Linked DNA regions of Homo sapiens. The protein of the gene in region 2 interacts with the protein of the main gene of each other region in a pairwise test. Each region holds a gene or a part of one and is shown on either strand. Other genes may lie near its edges.

Region 1 (4,046 bases), on a different chromosome or scaffold from region 2:
AATGTAAAAAGAAAAAGGATAAGCTTTTAGAAGACAATATTGGGGACTATCTTCATGTCTTTGATGTAAAGAAAGTCTTCTTAAACAAGATAGAAAGTGCAGTAACCTTACGGAAAAAGACATGACACATTCGACTACATTGAAATCATGATAAAAGCCTCTTTTCTAGGAAAGTTTCCATTAAGAGAGTGAAAAATCAAAACACAAAGCAAGAGAAGATATTTGTGATGTATATAATTGACAAAAGGCTTGCATAGAAAATACATAAAGAACTACAAACCAATAAGAAAAGACAGATAATCCAAAAGAAAACATGGACAAAAGACAAACAGGTATTTTACAAAAAATAACCCAGTTGCCTGTAACTATGTATAAAAGGGCCCAACTTATTATTTATCAGGGAAATGCAGATTAAAACTCCAGTGAGCTATTGCTACACTCACCAGGTGGTTAAAATTTAAAAATAATTGATGTTATCAAATGTTGGCAAGGATACAGAGCAAGAGGAACTCTTATTCACTGCTTGTGGGAGTGCAAGTTGGTGTAAATAATCTTGGAAAACAGTTTGGCATTGTCCAATACAATTGAATATATGCATAGCCTATGATCCGGTGATGCAACTTTTCAGCATGTAGAAATAGAGGCATAAGGGCACCTACTGGCCAATAGAAATGTGTGCACAAACCAAGCTGTACTATTCAACCTGAATATTAATTAGTGTGGCAAAAGTGTAAAGAATATGAAAAGTTACCACCATAAAAGTCAAGTGAGTGATTATTCTTGGGGGTAGGAGGGAGTTGTGACTGGGAAGGCTCGAGAATAGCTTCTCATAATTCAATTTAGATATAATAGACTGAAAACAAAAATTCTTTATGTTAACAAAGTGCCTTTCAAACCCTTTTGAGTTTGGACTGAACCACCATCAGAAAGAAATTTCTCACTGCTACTCAGTAAAAACATATGCACACACCCCAAACTGAAATATGGGTGTAATTAAATAGCATCTACTTTTACTACATGGCATGAAGTAATATTTTCTATTCCTTTAAAAAAACATGGGCTGGGCGTGGTGGCTCATGGCTGTAATCCCAGCACTTTGGGAGGCGGAGGCAGGCGGACCATGAGGTCAGGAGTTAAAGACCAGCATGACCAGCATGGTGAAACCCCGTCTGTACTAAAAAATACAAAAATTAGCCAGGCTTGGTGGCATGCACCTGTAATCCCAGCTAACTCAGGAGGCTGAGGCAGGAGAATTGCTTGAACCCAGGAGGTGGAGGTTGCAGTGAGCTGAGATTGTGCCATTGCACTCCAGCCTGGGTGACAGAGCAAGACTCCATCTCAAAAAAACAAAACAAAACAAAACAAAAAAACACGGTAGGCTGAGTGGAGTGGCTCATGCCTATAATCCCAGAACTTTGGGAGTCTGAACTAGGAGGGTTGCTTGTGCCCAGGAGTTTGAGACCAGCCTGGTCAACACAGTAAGACCTTATCTCTACGAAAAAATAAAAATAAAAAAATTAGCCAGGTGTGGTGGTGCATGCCTGTAGTCACAGTTTCTTGGGAGGCTGAGGTGGGAGGATGGCCTGAGCTCAGGAGGCAGAGGCTGCAGTGAGGCGAGATCACACCACTGCACTTTAGCCTGGGTGACAGAGTGAGACCCTGTCTCAAAAAAAAAGCAAAGCAAAAACAAAAACCAAAAACCAAAAACCAAAAAAAAAAACAAAAAAACAAAATCCATTGTAGCAACTGGCAGCATGAAAAGTTCTGCATTTAGAATGCTTTTGTACTCAGCTTTCAGATGGAAAAACTGAGGCATAATTGGAATAAATTAAGCCTATCTGCTGGATACAGTGATGGCCTAGAGAAACTTACAATAGGATCTTACAGAGACTTTCTGAACTGGAGTGCTTGCTTTCAGGATCATCCTTCCCAGCCCCTCATTCTGCAGATGAATAAACCAAGGCTTAGCACCATGTGACTCGTGTGAACAAGGATAGGGCTGGGATAAAACATGTTCCCGATTCCTCCTGCACGTCCCACCATCATGTCAGGGTCATGGCTGCTTTGGCCCAGAGAAGCTGACATACACCTGGCTCACAGGAAGCCCCCTCCTATTGACTGGGGAGACTGCTAACCTGGAGAATGTGGATGCATTTCTCAGGAGAGGGAGAGGACCGCCTGCCTGCACAGGAGGTGAGTCCAAGGCACCGGCTGAGCTGGCCTGATGGGTGGGGCGGCAGCACCTCACCTGTACCAGGGCACCCCAGGAGGCTGCACCCAGTGACGTGGGCTGAGGATGGGGCCGGCCCCTCTCTCTGCATAGGAAGCTGGCCTCTCAGTGTGAGGAGTCGTCTTGCAGGGGAAGCAGCAATCTCATCCACATAGGATACTGTCTACATGTCCAGGACAAGGATGCAGGCAGCTGCCTGTGACAAGCGCCATGACCCTGCCAGGCTCACTCCTTGGCGGCTCACAGACCCTGAAGGCTTGGCAGGGCTTGCCTGCTGCCTTCTGCCAACTGCAGGCCACTCAACCACGGGATGCTTTCCTGCTGCTTGTTCCTCGTCCCTTGGGACACGGAGGCAGCCATCCGAGACTCACATCAGCCCCATTGTCCCCAGCCCTGGGGATGGGAAACTCTTGCAGGTACCAGAGCTTACCTGAGGCCATCTCAGACAAAAGTAAGCAGAGAGTAAACAGCAGAAGGTAGGAAGTTCTCATGGCGACTGGCAGGCAACACCCAGGATTTCAGGAACTGGGGAGACGCTGGCTCCTTTGGAGGCTGAGCTGACAGAGGCTTCCAGAGGCTGGAGCGTCACTGTATTTATAAGACTGGTGGATTGCACAACCTCGTCGACGGAACTGAAGGGAGGTGCCACAGTCAAGGGTGAACTTCTAATCGCTAACCCCTGGTGTCATTTGCCCTGAGCAGTCAGCAGTCACATGGCACATTGTCTCCATCTGGCTGCCGCTGGATTTAGCTTTCAGCCTGGAGCCCTGGTGCCAGCTCCTCCTGTTTGGTTTTCTAGGTTAGGCAGTTCTGATGGGGTTTCTGGAACAGGCAGTTCACACTGGAGTCCCTCCTTCTGGATCACATGGAGGAGAGCCACAGGGAAGCTCTGAGCAGGGGGCCGCTCGGCTCTAAGCTGGTGTTGGCCTCTTTAGTTTGATTGTCTTCCTGCAAGACAAACTCAAACTTCACCCTCTTCCCTTGCAGAAGGAGAGCTGGTTGTAATGAAGTTTCTTCCTCTGGCCAAGGCTACCTTCTCATCTCTCCCCTTATGCAGAACACTCTCCTCGATGGACCAACTTTTCTCTTTTCCCACTAGACGTGTTCCTGGGACGTTTCCAAAGGGCACTCCTCAGAAAGTGAGCCCCCAGTGTGGCCCTTGGAGGGTGAGGGTCTGGGCCAGCCTGGGCCCACCCTGCAGAGCTACAACTGCCAGATTGGGGTGCTGTTAGCGACTCTCCAAGTATCCCTCAGGTTTTCCTTGATTCTAAAGATTTAAGAAACATTTTATTTATTACTGATTTTCATTGTAATTCTGTGAGCAGCTTTCCTGATGTCTCAGTGGCTTATTTGCAAGCAGCAGACGCTGGCTCTCGCTGACCAAGGAAGGGAAGAGTTTATTCGGAGGATATCAGGGTTGGTGGGGGGTGGTGGCATTGCTGGAGAACCCAGCTTGAGGCTCAGTTTCCAGGAATGACATCCACCCTACACTGTCACGGTGGTCCAATGAGAACCCCATACTGCAGCCACATGGCATGAGACACCCAGAGTGGAGTGACCCTCAGCCACTCTACCGCTGGCAGAATGCCATTCTGCACCCAAACATGAACCTGCCGTATACTCCCACTTCAACCCTGCCAGAGAAAGACAGAGAGAGATCCAGAAAGATGGACAAACAAAAACAGAGACAGAGGAAGAGACAGAGACATGCAGAGAGACAGTAGAGAGACACAGAGAAACAGAGAGATAGAAACAGACAGAGAGAGATGGAAATAGAGAGAGAGAGAGAGATAGAGAGAAATAGATTCAGAGAGAC
Region 2 (5,253 bases):
GGGCAGGGCTTAGGGCAGGGGACTATGGAGGTAAGGCGACCACGTGGGTCTGCCTTCCCAGAAGGGAGCCTCCCCGTCCCCACTCACCAATTCCTTCCCTGTGCAGGCTGTGTGAGGATTGTCAACATGCAGGGCGAGCCCACGGCCACACTGGCACCTGAGCTGACCTTTGATTTCCCCATCGAGACTGTGGGTGAGTGAGCCAGAGGTGGGGTGCAGGCCTTTCCCTGGCCTGGAGCACGTTGTTGCTCAGGGGCCTGGGGCTGGCGGTAGGATGAGGAGGCAGATCCCCTAGCCCCTCTCCTGAGCCATCCTGGTCACCTGAGGTCAGTGAGGACCCCTGTGGCCCAGACCCAGGCTCAGGCGTGGCTGAGGGGGTGCCAAGATGGGTGCAGGGCTGATGGTGGCCTGGCCCCCATAGTGTGCCTGCAGGACAGTGTGCTGGCCTTCTGGAGCCATGGGATGCAAGGCCGAAGCCTGGATACCAATGAGGTGAGTGGGGCCCAGGGACCTTGCTGTCCCCTGCCTTGTGGTCCCTACCTCTTTGGAAAGGACCTACTGGAGTGGCCTCAGTGCTTCCCACCTGTCTTCCCAGGTGACCCAGGAGATCACAGATGAAACAAGGATCTTCCGAGTGCTTGGGGCCCACAGGTAGGCGGTGGTACCCTAGCCTCCCCTTCAGATGCCCCTGAGGCCAGAGAAGGGGCTGATGTACCAAGTGTCTCCCGCCCTGCCCCCTACTCCTCTCTCCTCCAGAGACATCATCCTGGAGAGCATTCCCACTGACAACCCAGAGGCGCACAGCAACCTCTACATCCTCACGGGCCACCAGAGCACCTACTAAGAGCAGCGGGCCTGTCCAGGGGCTCCCCGCCCCACCCCACGCCTTAGCTGCAGGCCCTTTTGGGCAAAGGGGCCCATCCTAGACCAGAGGAGCCCAGGCCCTGGCCCTGCTGGGGCTGAAGGTCAGAAGTAATCCTGAGAAATGTTTCAGGCCTGGGGAGGGAGGGGAGCCCCCGACGCCTCTGCAATAACTGGACCAGGGGGAGCTGCTGTCACTCCCCCATCCCCGAGGCAGCCCAGTCCCTAGTGCCCAAGGCAGGGACCCTGGGCCTGGGCCATCCATTCCATTTTGTTCCACATTTCCTTTCTACTCTTTCTGCCAAGAGCCTGCCCCTGCATTTGTCCTGGGAAACACGGTATTTAAGAGAGAACTATATTGGTATTAAAGCTGGTTTGTTTTAGTCCTCTGGTCCCTCTGGGTAGGGGGAGTGAACCCACCTCATCTCCCGCCTCCTTCCCTCCAACACACGTTTCTGTGGGCACCACAGAAGGGCAGGGCCCCCAGGGTTTTGGAGAAGCCAGGTAGAGGTGACAGGAGGCCATGGCCCCCAGCAGCCTTCTAGGGGCACTGTGCCTTCCCCTGCATCCTTGCTCAGAACTGACCCTCAGCTTTGCAGTTTGAGGGCTCTGCTGTAGTTTAGCACCCCAAGGACTCATGCAGATGGGGGGACCTCAACAAAGGGACTCTCATCCAGGGCACCCTTGCCCCACGTAGGATCTCACTGGGTGACCCCTGGAAGGGCCCAGGAGGAGCCCCCAGAGGGCTGTTCCCTCCATTCCCATGGAGGCTGCTGCCCATGGAGGTAGCCTGTGTGACCTGTATCCCCTGCCTCCACCTACTGCCTAGGTGTTAGACCAGGAACATCAGATGACAGCACGATCATCAGATTGGATGGGAAGGCTAGCCTGTGTCCGTCTACCAGACTCCCAAGGGCTGCCTCAGTGCCAGGCCCTGGGGTCACTACCAGAAACAGACCAGCCCCCAGGGAGGGCGTCCTCCTTGCTGGAGCCTGCATCTTGAGGGCATGGCCATTCTCCTGTAGCTTGTGCTTACGCTGTCATTCTCCAAGGGTCTGTCTGCTCAGCTCTGAATGCCAGGGCCCCCAGGGCTGGGCATCCTCTTTTGCCCCAGGCACTGATCAGCCGCTCTTGACTGGAGCCTTTGGGCAGCTGCAGCCCAGGAGGCAGGATGGGAACTGCCTTGAGGGCCCACAGCTGGGGGGCTGGGAAGGTGGGGGCAGGGTGGGGGGAACAGCTGGAGCAAAGGCCCCATGGTCACCCCTACATTCAAGGCAGGTGTTGGAGGAAGACCTTTGCACCTGGTGGGTGGCAATAAAGACTTGCGGAGTGACGTGGTAGGTGGATGGCAGCCATGCGAGTAGGCTCAGTGGTTCCCAGGGTGTCACACTGTCCCCTCAGCCACCCTCCAGCAGAGTTTCAACTGTTCTGACTCTGTCCAGTGACTGGGAGGGTTTCTTGGCTGGAATGGGGAGCCAGCCCAGGGGAGGGAACACATCTCTTCACACCAGGCATTCACACCCATGTTCCCGTGAGCCCCAAGGAGGGTGAGGGGCACCTTCCAAATTGGGGTCGGTGGTAACAGGGATACAAAGTGAATTCCTAACTTCCAATTTTCCAGATTTCTCGGAGGAATGTTGGGACCAGGGTGGGGTAAGTGGGGACAGGGAGGTGAGCTCCTGCTCAGCAAAGGCCCTGACCAAAGGCGCCCTGGGGAGGACTGGCTTTCCGTTCACCAACCGGCCAGCAGCAGACAGTGCCTCCTTGTGGCGGATCTTCCCGGACCTCAGATTCAGTCTGGAAACGGGGTTTGGACTGCAGAGTGTAAACTGCCAAAGTGGGGGCCTCCCATAAAACGCTTGCTGCCAGCAAAGGCAGGCCAAGAGCAAAGAAAGGCCGAGAAACCAGGGAATATGCACTGAGAGACTAACACTTTAAATTTTATTTATGTATTTTTAAATGCGTAACCTTTGCCCATGGTACATATTTTTTTAAATACAGCAGAGATATAATGAAGTCTCCCTCTTACCCCGTCCCCAGCCACCCTGGTCTCAGTTACTTATGAACCCTTCTAGAAGTATTTTGCGTATTTAAGCAATTTGGTATATTTTATTCTTGGCGATTTTTTATATACGTATTAACATATTCCACATACTGTACTGACCTTGCCCTTTAAAAATATATCCTGGGGGGCCAGGTGTGGTGGCTCACACCTGTAATCCAAGCACTTTGGGAGGCCGAGGCGGGCGAATCACGAGGTCAGGGGTTCGAGACCAGCCTGGCCAACATGGTGAAACCCCGTCTCTACTAAAAATACAAAAAATTAGCTGGGCATGGTGGCGAGTGCCTGTAATCCCAGCTACTCGGGAGGCTGAGGCAGGAGAATCGCTTGAACCTGGGAGGCGGAGGTTGCAGTGAGCCTAGAACATGCCACTGCACTCCAGCCTGGGCGACAGTGCAAGACTCCGTCTCAAAAAAAAAAAAAAGAGAAAAAAATATATATATATCCTGGAGAATATGAATGTATTAAATTATCACATGCACCCTGAAAAGATATGTATATATCCTGGAGAGTTTTGCGTTAAAGATCTCCCTTTAAAAAAAAATTTTTTTTTTTTTACAGCTAGTGGTATTCCATTGTGTATGTTTCCCATAACAAATGTTAATGACCTGCAGTGAGATCCCTATTGGTGGAAATTTGAGTTGTTTTTACTACTTTTATATTACAAACAATGCTGCAATAAATATTATTAGGCTAGTGCCCCTCTGTACATATTCAAGCACTTCTAGAAGATAAGTTCCTGGAAGCAGCATTAATGAGTTAGCGGTGGCTACATATGCCGTGGTGATAGCTGCTGTCCAGTTGCCCCTCCATGGGCAGAAACCTGTGGGAGGGTCAGACCAGACTCTTTAAGTCATTCTTGAGGACAAGTAGAAGGGACGTGGGCCCCCCCAGGATGTTCAGGTAACTGGCCCATACCCGGAGTCATCCTGGTGAAAGTCAAGGGGAGCACCATGATGTGTGCTTCGGGACGGCGGAGGATCTGCCGTGTTCCCTGTGGCATGTCCAGCACCTGCTCACTACCAGTGCTCAGGAGACCCTCACGAGTAAGGGAATGGACAAGATGTGGTGAAGAGGAGTCCCTGCAATCTGCCCTTGGACTGGGTGAGCCACCCCAGCTCGCTGAGCTTTACTTTCCTTAGGTTTACCATATCCAAAGCCAACTGCAGGGCTGTCAGGAGGATCAGAAATACTGTAACAGACATAATGCAATAACATAGATGACTCTTAGAGGTAAATTAAAACAGCACTTTATGCACAGTACGATAGCATATTATAAAGCTCAAAAACAAAATGAAACCATCTATTGTTTAGCAATACATGCCCAAGATACAACCCTATTAAAAAATCATGGGAAGGAAAAGCACAAAATCTGAGATGGTCGTCCCTGAGAGGAGTGTGGGATGGGATAAGGAAGGAGCCCAGGAATTTTTAAAGGTATTGGTAATATCTTAGCTCTCAGGTTTGGTGGTAGGTTCATGGGTATTTAAGTTATAACTCAGTTCCTAACTCACATAAGGTGCCACACATCCTTTTGTATGTATCAAATATTATGTCATAAAATTTTAGTTTGGGCATGGTGGTTCATGTCTGTAATCCCAGCACTTTGGGAAACTGAGGCAGGCAGATCACTTGAACCCAGGAGTTCTAGACCAGCCTGGGCAACATGACAAAACCCTGTCTCTACAAAAGATACACAAATTAGCTGGACATGGTGGCACTCGCCTGCAGTCCCAGCTACTCTGGAGGCTAAGGTGGGAGGATTGCTTGAGCCTAGGAGTTCAAGGCTGCAGTGAGCTATGAACTTGCCACTGCACTCCAGCCTGGGTGACAGAGTGAGAACCTGTCTCAAAAAGAAAAAAAAAAAAAGGAAAAAAATTTTTAAAAAATATTTAAAAGTAATCACCGAAAAAATAGAACTCGCTTGAAAGACAAGACCAAAAACGAAGAGGACGTTTCCCTAGATGGTGAAAACAAGTGGGGCGGAATCACTGCAGCGTCCTGCACAGAACTCTGGAATTGCCACTTTGCAGTTGCTGCCTTCTAGTGTGTATTGTTGAAAGACAGTTTTATTGAGGCATAATTGGCATACAATAAGCTGCATATAAAAATGTGTACGTGATGACTTTTGACATACGTGTACACCCGTGAAGCTATTTCCACAATCAAGATAATCACCATCCCCTTCACTCTGGAAAGTTTCCCATGCCCTTGGTAAGCCCACCCTCCTGCTTCTTGCCTCCCATCCCCAAGTAACAACTGTGCTGCTTTCTGTCACTACAGGTTAATCTGCACTTTCTAGAATGTATGTAAATAGAATCACACAGTAT
Region 3 (3,500 bases), on a different chromosome or scaffold from region 2:
GTAGGAAATACATTTTTCGTTGTCAGCCAGTACACAGGCACATATATATACGGTAACATTCCATCTGGATGCACCAGCACAGCCATGCTCCTTAAAATACTGAAAAACCCTCATATCATGTGGTAAATAGCCACTTCCCTTTCCTCACCAACTAGTTAGTCCTCCTGCCTGATCCCTTTCAGAAACCTCCAGAACTAAAGCCAGCTTTGAGTTAAGATTGTTAAATATTTTGAATATCATCACTGTTGAAGACAAACATATATATTTGTATATATAAATATGTGTTTCATAATTTACCCTTAGTATGTATGATAGAGTCTCCTGTTTTCTATTCGATTTCACTTTTTAAAAATATTTTTTAGAACTCAGTTAATTTAAGGAGTCCCTACCACGGTTTGAAAAAATGCCACCCTAGTAATATTCTGTAAACATGGCCTGACAACATGAGGGTATTAAGGTATAAAATCCCTGGCTGCACAGGACTGGTAGACAAGGTGGAAGAGGACCTTATCAAGAAAGGAGGGGTGGGGGTACTGGAAAACATTGCCTCCTCTCCAAAATACACATAGATGCATCTAATTCATAGGGTTGGTATAGGAATATTAAAAAAAAAATAGTGAAATGACATAAAATTTGTATAGATCCTTTGAAAGCTATAAAATACTATATAAATAAAAGGTATTATTAAATAAAAGTAATAAAATGAGGGGTGGCTATTGCTATAAGGGAGAAGGGAACATTGGTTGACTACTGATCTATTAAGTTGTAATAAGAAAGTTTATTGAGATGTAGTTGGGAACTCTGTAATATGTTTCTGTCTTAAATATTTGATTAAATGACAGTCTTTTAGACTACTCCATTTTGAAAAGGTTCAAATATAAAATTGTTCTTAATGTGCATTTTTATTATTAAAGGTATTTGTAAAAATTGTCATTTGAAAGTTTAGGTATATGCTTATTTGGAGAATACTGAATATTTTTTTTTTTTTACCTTTCAGCACATTTGTGTGTCCAACTGAAATTATCGCTTTTGGCGACAGACTTGAAGAATTCAGATCTATAAATACTGAAGTGGTAGCATGCTCTGTTGATTCACAGTTTACCCATTTGGCCTGGTCAGTATCTTACACTTATATTCGTAGAAAAAAAAGAATGGATTTACTCTTAAAGCATGGACAGATAACTCTTGATATGATATAAGAATATAGTCATTTATCAGACAATTCAGGAATAGCTTTATCTAAGAGTAATACATGTAACTACACATTTTCCAGGTTAAAAAAAGAGAGAAGAGTAATATAATCAGCTGCTATAATAAAAATGCTTAAGGATTTTATAGGACATTTCAAAATAAGGGGAAAAGTTAAATGCAATAGATGTGATTTCTATAGCGAAAACCACTGAATTATATGCTTATGATAAATTGGGTTACCATAATCTGGAGGAAAAAAATCTTTAAAATATGCCATTTCTCTGTTACACAGTTATATAGTCAAACTCAGCTTTTACAATTTTGAAGAAACAATACTTTTTAAAAATGAATTTTAAAAAATGTTTAAAAATTCATTAATCATAAAAAGATGTTTTACCTAAATTCGTTATAAAGAATTGCAAATTAAAATGACGAGATGCCAATTTTCCCTGTCTGGTTGGCCAAGATTTAAAAGATTGAAAAAATGTATCCACTGTGGACAAAAATTGAAGAAACGGCACTCACACACAGCTGTTTAGCATTTCTGGAGAGCAGTTGGGCAACATGTCTCAAAATTGGAAATTTACATGTTAATATGAGTTTTTATAGTGTCCACAGTCTTGTGCAGAAAACTTTGTGCACAATAAAGACCATTCAGAATTGGGCTGGGCACAGTGGCTCATGCCTCTAATCCCAGCACTTTGGGAGGCCGAGGCAGGCAGATCACCTGAGGTCGGGAGTTCGAGACCAGCCTGACCAACATGGAGAAACCCCGTCTCTACTAAAAATACAAAATTAGCCAGGCGTGGTAGCAGGTGCCTGTAATCCCAGCAACTCAGGAGGCTGAGGCAGGAGAATCACTTGAACCCAGGAGGTGGAGGTTGCAGTGAGCCGAGGTCACGCCATTGCACTCCAGCCTGGGCAACTGGGCAATGAGAGTGAAACTCCATCTCAAAAAAAAAAAAAAAAAAAAAAAAAAAAAAAGATTCAGAACTATTGGTTTTAAAACATAATATTCAATTTATTAAAGTTACAAATTTGAAACACAAGCTTTTCTCATTTATAATCTGTGTGTGTATAACAAATTTTCATTGCTTGGTGAGCTACAATTTAATTAATTACATTTCCCTAAGAAATTAATTCCCATAAGTATTTTTAAATGCAGTTATATATTTAATATATTTGAATTCCTTAAGTATCTCAATTTTCAGACAAACCTTCCCAAATACTTAAGTAGTTCTAATATGCCAAATTCTCTTAAACATTATAAATAACTTAACATATAAATATGTACTGATTATTTCTTAATGTAAAAATATTAAAATAGCCTGGCATGGTGGCTCACGCCTATAATCCCAGCACTTTGGGAGGTCAAAGCAGGAGAATCATTTCAACCCAGGAGTTCAAGACCAGCCTGGGCAACATAGTGAGACCCCATCTATACAAAAAATAAAAAAAATTAGCCAGGTCTGGTGGTGCATGCCTGTGGTCCCAGCTACTCGGGAGCCTGAGATGGAAGGATGACCTGAGCCTAGGTGGTCGAGGCTGTAGTGAGCCAAGATCATACCACTGCACTTCAGCCTGGGCAATAGAGTGAGATCCTGTCTCAAAAAAAAAAAAAAAATTAAAATATAGGCTTAATTTGCTTCATCATTTCCTTTAAAAAAAGAAAGACAGGGTCTTACTATGTTGCCCAGGCTGGAGTGCAGTGGCACAATCAATCATAGCTCCCTGCAGCCTTGAACTCCTGGGCTCCAACAATCCTTCTACCTCCCCAAATAGTTGGGACTGCAAGCTTGCACCACCATACCTATTTTAATTTTTATTTTTGTAGAGATGGAGTCTTGCCATGTTGCCCGGGCTGTGCTTCATCACTTCTGTAGTAATTATAAATCTTCCGAGGATTAAAATGCATATCCACTAAGGAAAAAGTTATGGCATCCCAAATAATTTGGGATTGCTTTCCCAAGGAAATTTGGGGATACATTCTCAGCCTGATAGGGTTCACATCAACCAGAAATTTCTACTTGGGTGTCAGAACTGGGGCTCCAGATATCTAGAGCAATGTCGTTTTGTTTTCTATCTGCTGTGTCAGTACCCTCCTGTTAGAGCATCAGCCCATGTCTCCTGGTTTCAAGTTACAGAATACAGATTGAGCGTCCCTAACCTGAAATCCACAGTGTTCCAAAATTCAAAATTTGAGTGCTGACATGATGCTCAAAGGAAATGCTTAGTGAAGCATTTCAGAGTTCAGATTAGGGATGTTCAACCAGTAAGTATGCAGATATACCAAAATCGGAAAAAATCCT
Region 4 (2,982 bases), on a different chromosome or scaffold from region 2:
ACAGGTCAGCTTGTTTGCTCAAAGCAGGGATAAGACAAGTCTCTAATTCAAAGGTTGGCTTTGAGGATCAAATGATTAACCCATGTATATACTCCTTAGAAAAGGGTCTAAAGAGATGGGCAAACTACAGCCCATGGGCCAAATGTGTTCAGCCACTGGTTTTGTAAATAAAGTTTTATTGGCACACAGCCAGGCCCATTCATTTATGTATTGTCTGTGGCTGACTTCATGCTACAATGGCAGGTTGATTCATTACTGCAGAGATTGAATGATCTGCAATGCCTAAAATAGTTAATATCTCTATAAACCTTTTGGTTTGTTGACCCCTGACCATTTTATGTACTCAATAAATAGCAACTATAATTCATCTAATGATAACAATGCTCATTTTGAAGCTTTAAAAATATGTAAAAGCATAAAGGAGAAAGTAGACATAATCTCTAGTCCTACCACTCAGAGGCAACAAATGTTAATGTTTTAGCATCTTTTCTTCACCTTCCATTCACACACATATATGTCCACACAGTTGATTTTGCAGTGTGCAAACAACTTTGTACGGTGTGTATTAGCCAGGGTTTCATCAGAGAAGGAGAGCCACCTCAAGTCAATGGTAAGGAGATCATTATAGGAATTAGGCCCCACACAATTGCGACTGGGAAAGTGAAGGTCTAGAGGAAAGAAGAGTTGGAAGGACAGAGAGAAAGTTGCCAATGTAAGCGGACAAGTCAGAGCTTAGAGGGGAATCTATATGCCAGGCTCAACCAGCCATCAGAGTGCTGCCATGGAGGGGAGCATCACTGCATAGTTTCTGTGGTAGCCTGGGGCTGCTGTTGTTTAGTGGGGTTAGACTTGGGAAATGAGCTTGGAGACAAGCAGGGCAAACTGGAGCACACAGAGCACTGCTGAGTCTGACCATCATCATATCTGACTACCAGGGCCTTCAGAGGGCAATCTACTTCGAAATCTCACAGTTCTAACCAGCTTGAACCCAAAATCTACAGGGAACAAAATTCTAGGGAGCAACTCCCAGCCTAATGATTCAGCCAAATTAGTCATCCCATGTAATTTGCATGTGGAATTTTCATGAACCATTGAAAAGTTTTTTTAAAAAAGCTTTGTTTTGAGGCTGGGCATAGTGGCTCACACCTGTAATTCCAGCACTTTGGGAGGCCAAGGCAGGTGGATATTGAAATCAGAAGTTCAAGACCAGCCCGGCCAACATGGCAAAACCCTGTCTCTACTAAAAATACAAAAAAAAAAAAAAAAATTAGCCAGGCTTCATGGCACATGCCTGTAATCCCAGCCACTTGGGAGGCTGAGGCAGGAGAATCGCTTGAACCCAGGAAGTGGAGGTTGCTGAGATTTTGCCACCACACTCTGGTCTGGGTGACAGAATGAGACTCTATCTCCAAAAAAAAGTTTTGCTTTGAAATAACAAAACTTTTAAACTTTAAAAAAAAAATTAACTAAGGAAGGAAGAGAAACAGTAGTATGGGTTTCACTGTCAGGAAGACATTGGTTAGAATCCCAGATCCCTTGCTATTCCCTGGACTAAAATTCCTGGCATGGAGGCCTTAGTCCATTCACCCTACCTGCCACCACCTCACTGCACATCGCCTCCTGTATTTGCTTCCCTCCTCACACTGCAGCGATTCCATGGCCATCATTGTGGTCACTTCCTTGCAAACACTCTGAACTCTTAACTTCCTTGGTTTTCCCTCCCTCTATCATACTTACCCTCCAAAGCTGCAAACCTGCTTAAACCTAAAGGTCTAACTAGTCTACATCTGCACCCAGCAGCTGAATGTGGTTGAAGAAAAACATCCAACGGGGCTGATGGTCTCACTTGATATTTGTGAATGCAAATTTTCATTGATATCTCTACACTGTCCAGCAATCCTACCTACATATCTCCACTCTCCAAAACAACTATAATAACAGATTCGTCCTTCTCAAATGTCCTCCCCACTCATGACTTTCACTTAACAATCTTGTCTCACTTTTCATTGAGAAAACAGAATCAGTTAAACAGGAAATCTCTCATCTTCTCACCTCCAAATCTACTCACCTCCAAATCTTCTCACCTCCAAATCTACTCGCCTCCCTGCATTTGAACCCACAAGCTCAGATGCCCTCCTCTCATCATGGCAGTAGTGACCCACCTCTTATGGAAGGCTGACCCCTCTGCTCACACTCTGCCATCTCCTCTCTCCTTCTCAAGGATGCTCACCTAACAATGAAACTCTCTTTCCAGCACCCCTTGTTTCTTCTCTATCAATCCTACTCACATATTAGAAAACGAACATCCTCTGCTATCTCTCATTTTAAAATTTAAATGAGGCCTAAAGGATCCATTCCCCAGGCATGTCAGGTTTTGAATGGTCAAAATGGGACATCTTGATGGGCTCATAGGGCAGGATCTGGAGCGACTGTTTCTGTAGCTCAGAACACCAGATGGCATTCCCTGGCTGGAGGACTAGCTCTGTGGCCTGCAGATGTCCTGTACCTTCTTTTCATCTTCCCTTCAGCCCTGTGGGAGAAACCATTCATTTCCTCAAGGACCACTCCCAAAGACTTCTATGTTGATGAGAACACAACAGTCCGGGTGCCCATGATGCTGCAGGACCAGGAGCATCACTGGTATCTTCATGACAGATACTTGCCCTGCTCGGTGCTACGGATGGATTACAAAGGAGACGCAACCGTGTTTTTCATTCTCCCTAACCAAGGCAAAATGAGGGAGATTGAAGAGGTTCTGACTCCAGAGATGCTAATGAGGTGGAACAACTTGTTGCGGAAGAGGTAATCAGTGTGCTATGGGGGCTGAATCTACAGTACTATCCATCAAATGTAACTTTCTAATGAAAGACAGTGCCCCAAAATAGAGAGTGAACACCAAATTATGAGAGAATTCTCACTTGCTCTGAGAACTTCCATGGGCTTCCTTTAAATGATGAACTCTCCTGTTATATTTAAAATATG

The links.
Region 1: the proteins of MAP4K2 (region 2) and DEFB1 interact in a two-hybrid assay, tested with the Homo sapiens proteins (one large-scale study listed by BioGRID and IntAct).
Region 3: the proteins of MAP4K2 (region 2) and PRDX4 interact in a two-hybrid assay, tested with the Homo sapiens proteins (one large-scale study listed by BioGRID and IntAct).
Region 4: the proteins of MAP4K2 (region 2) and SERPINA4 interact in a two-hybrid assay, tested with the Homo sapiens proteins (one large-scale study listed by BioGRID and IntAct).

What each region holds. Positions count from the first base shown.
Region 1 is NC_000008.11:6,875,137-6,879,182, forward strand, and holds the start of DEFB1 (beta-defensin 1 preproprotein), read right to left. Parts: upstream 2,801-4,046; 5' UTR 2,722-2,800; coding exon 2,661-2,721; intron 1-2,660. UniProt on the Homo sapiens protein: Has bactericidal activity. May act as a ligand for C-C chemokine receptor CCR6. Positively regulates the sperm motility and bactericidal activity in a CCR6-dependent manner.
Region 2 is NC_000011.10:64,785,128-64,790,380, reverse strand, and holds part of MAP4K2 (mitogen-activated protein kinase kinase kinase kinase 2), read left to right. Parts: intron 1-106; coding exon 107-193; intron 194-421; coding exon 422-492; intron 493-595; coding exon 596-651; intron 652-756; coding exon 757-844; 3' UTR 845-5,253. UniProt on the Homo sapiens protein: Serine/threonine-protein kinase which acts as an essential component of the MAP kinase signal transduction pathway.
Region 3 is NC_000023.11:23,673,993-23,677,492, forward strand, and holds part of PRDX4 (peroxiredoxin-4 precursor), read left to right. Parts: intron 1-997; coding exon 998-1,114; intron 1,115-3,500. UniProt on the Homo sapiens protein: Thiol-specific peroxidase that catalyzes the reduction of hydrogen peroxide and organic hydroperoxides to water and alcohols, respectively.
Region 4 is NC_000014.9:94,564,442-94,567,423, forward strand, and holds part of SERPINA4 (kallistatin isoform 2 precursor), read left to right. Parts: intron 1-2,528; coding exon 2,529-2,802; intron 2,803-2,982. UniProt on the Homo sapiens protein: Inhibits human amidolytic and kininogenase activities of tissue kallikrein.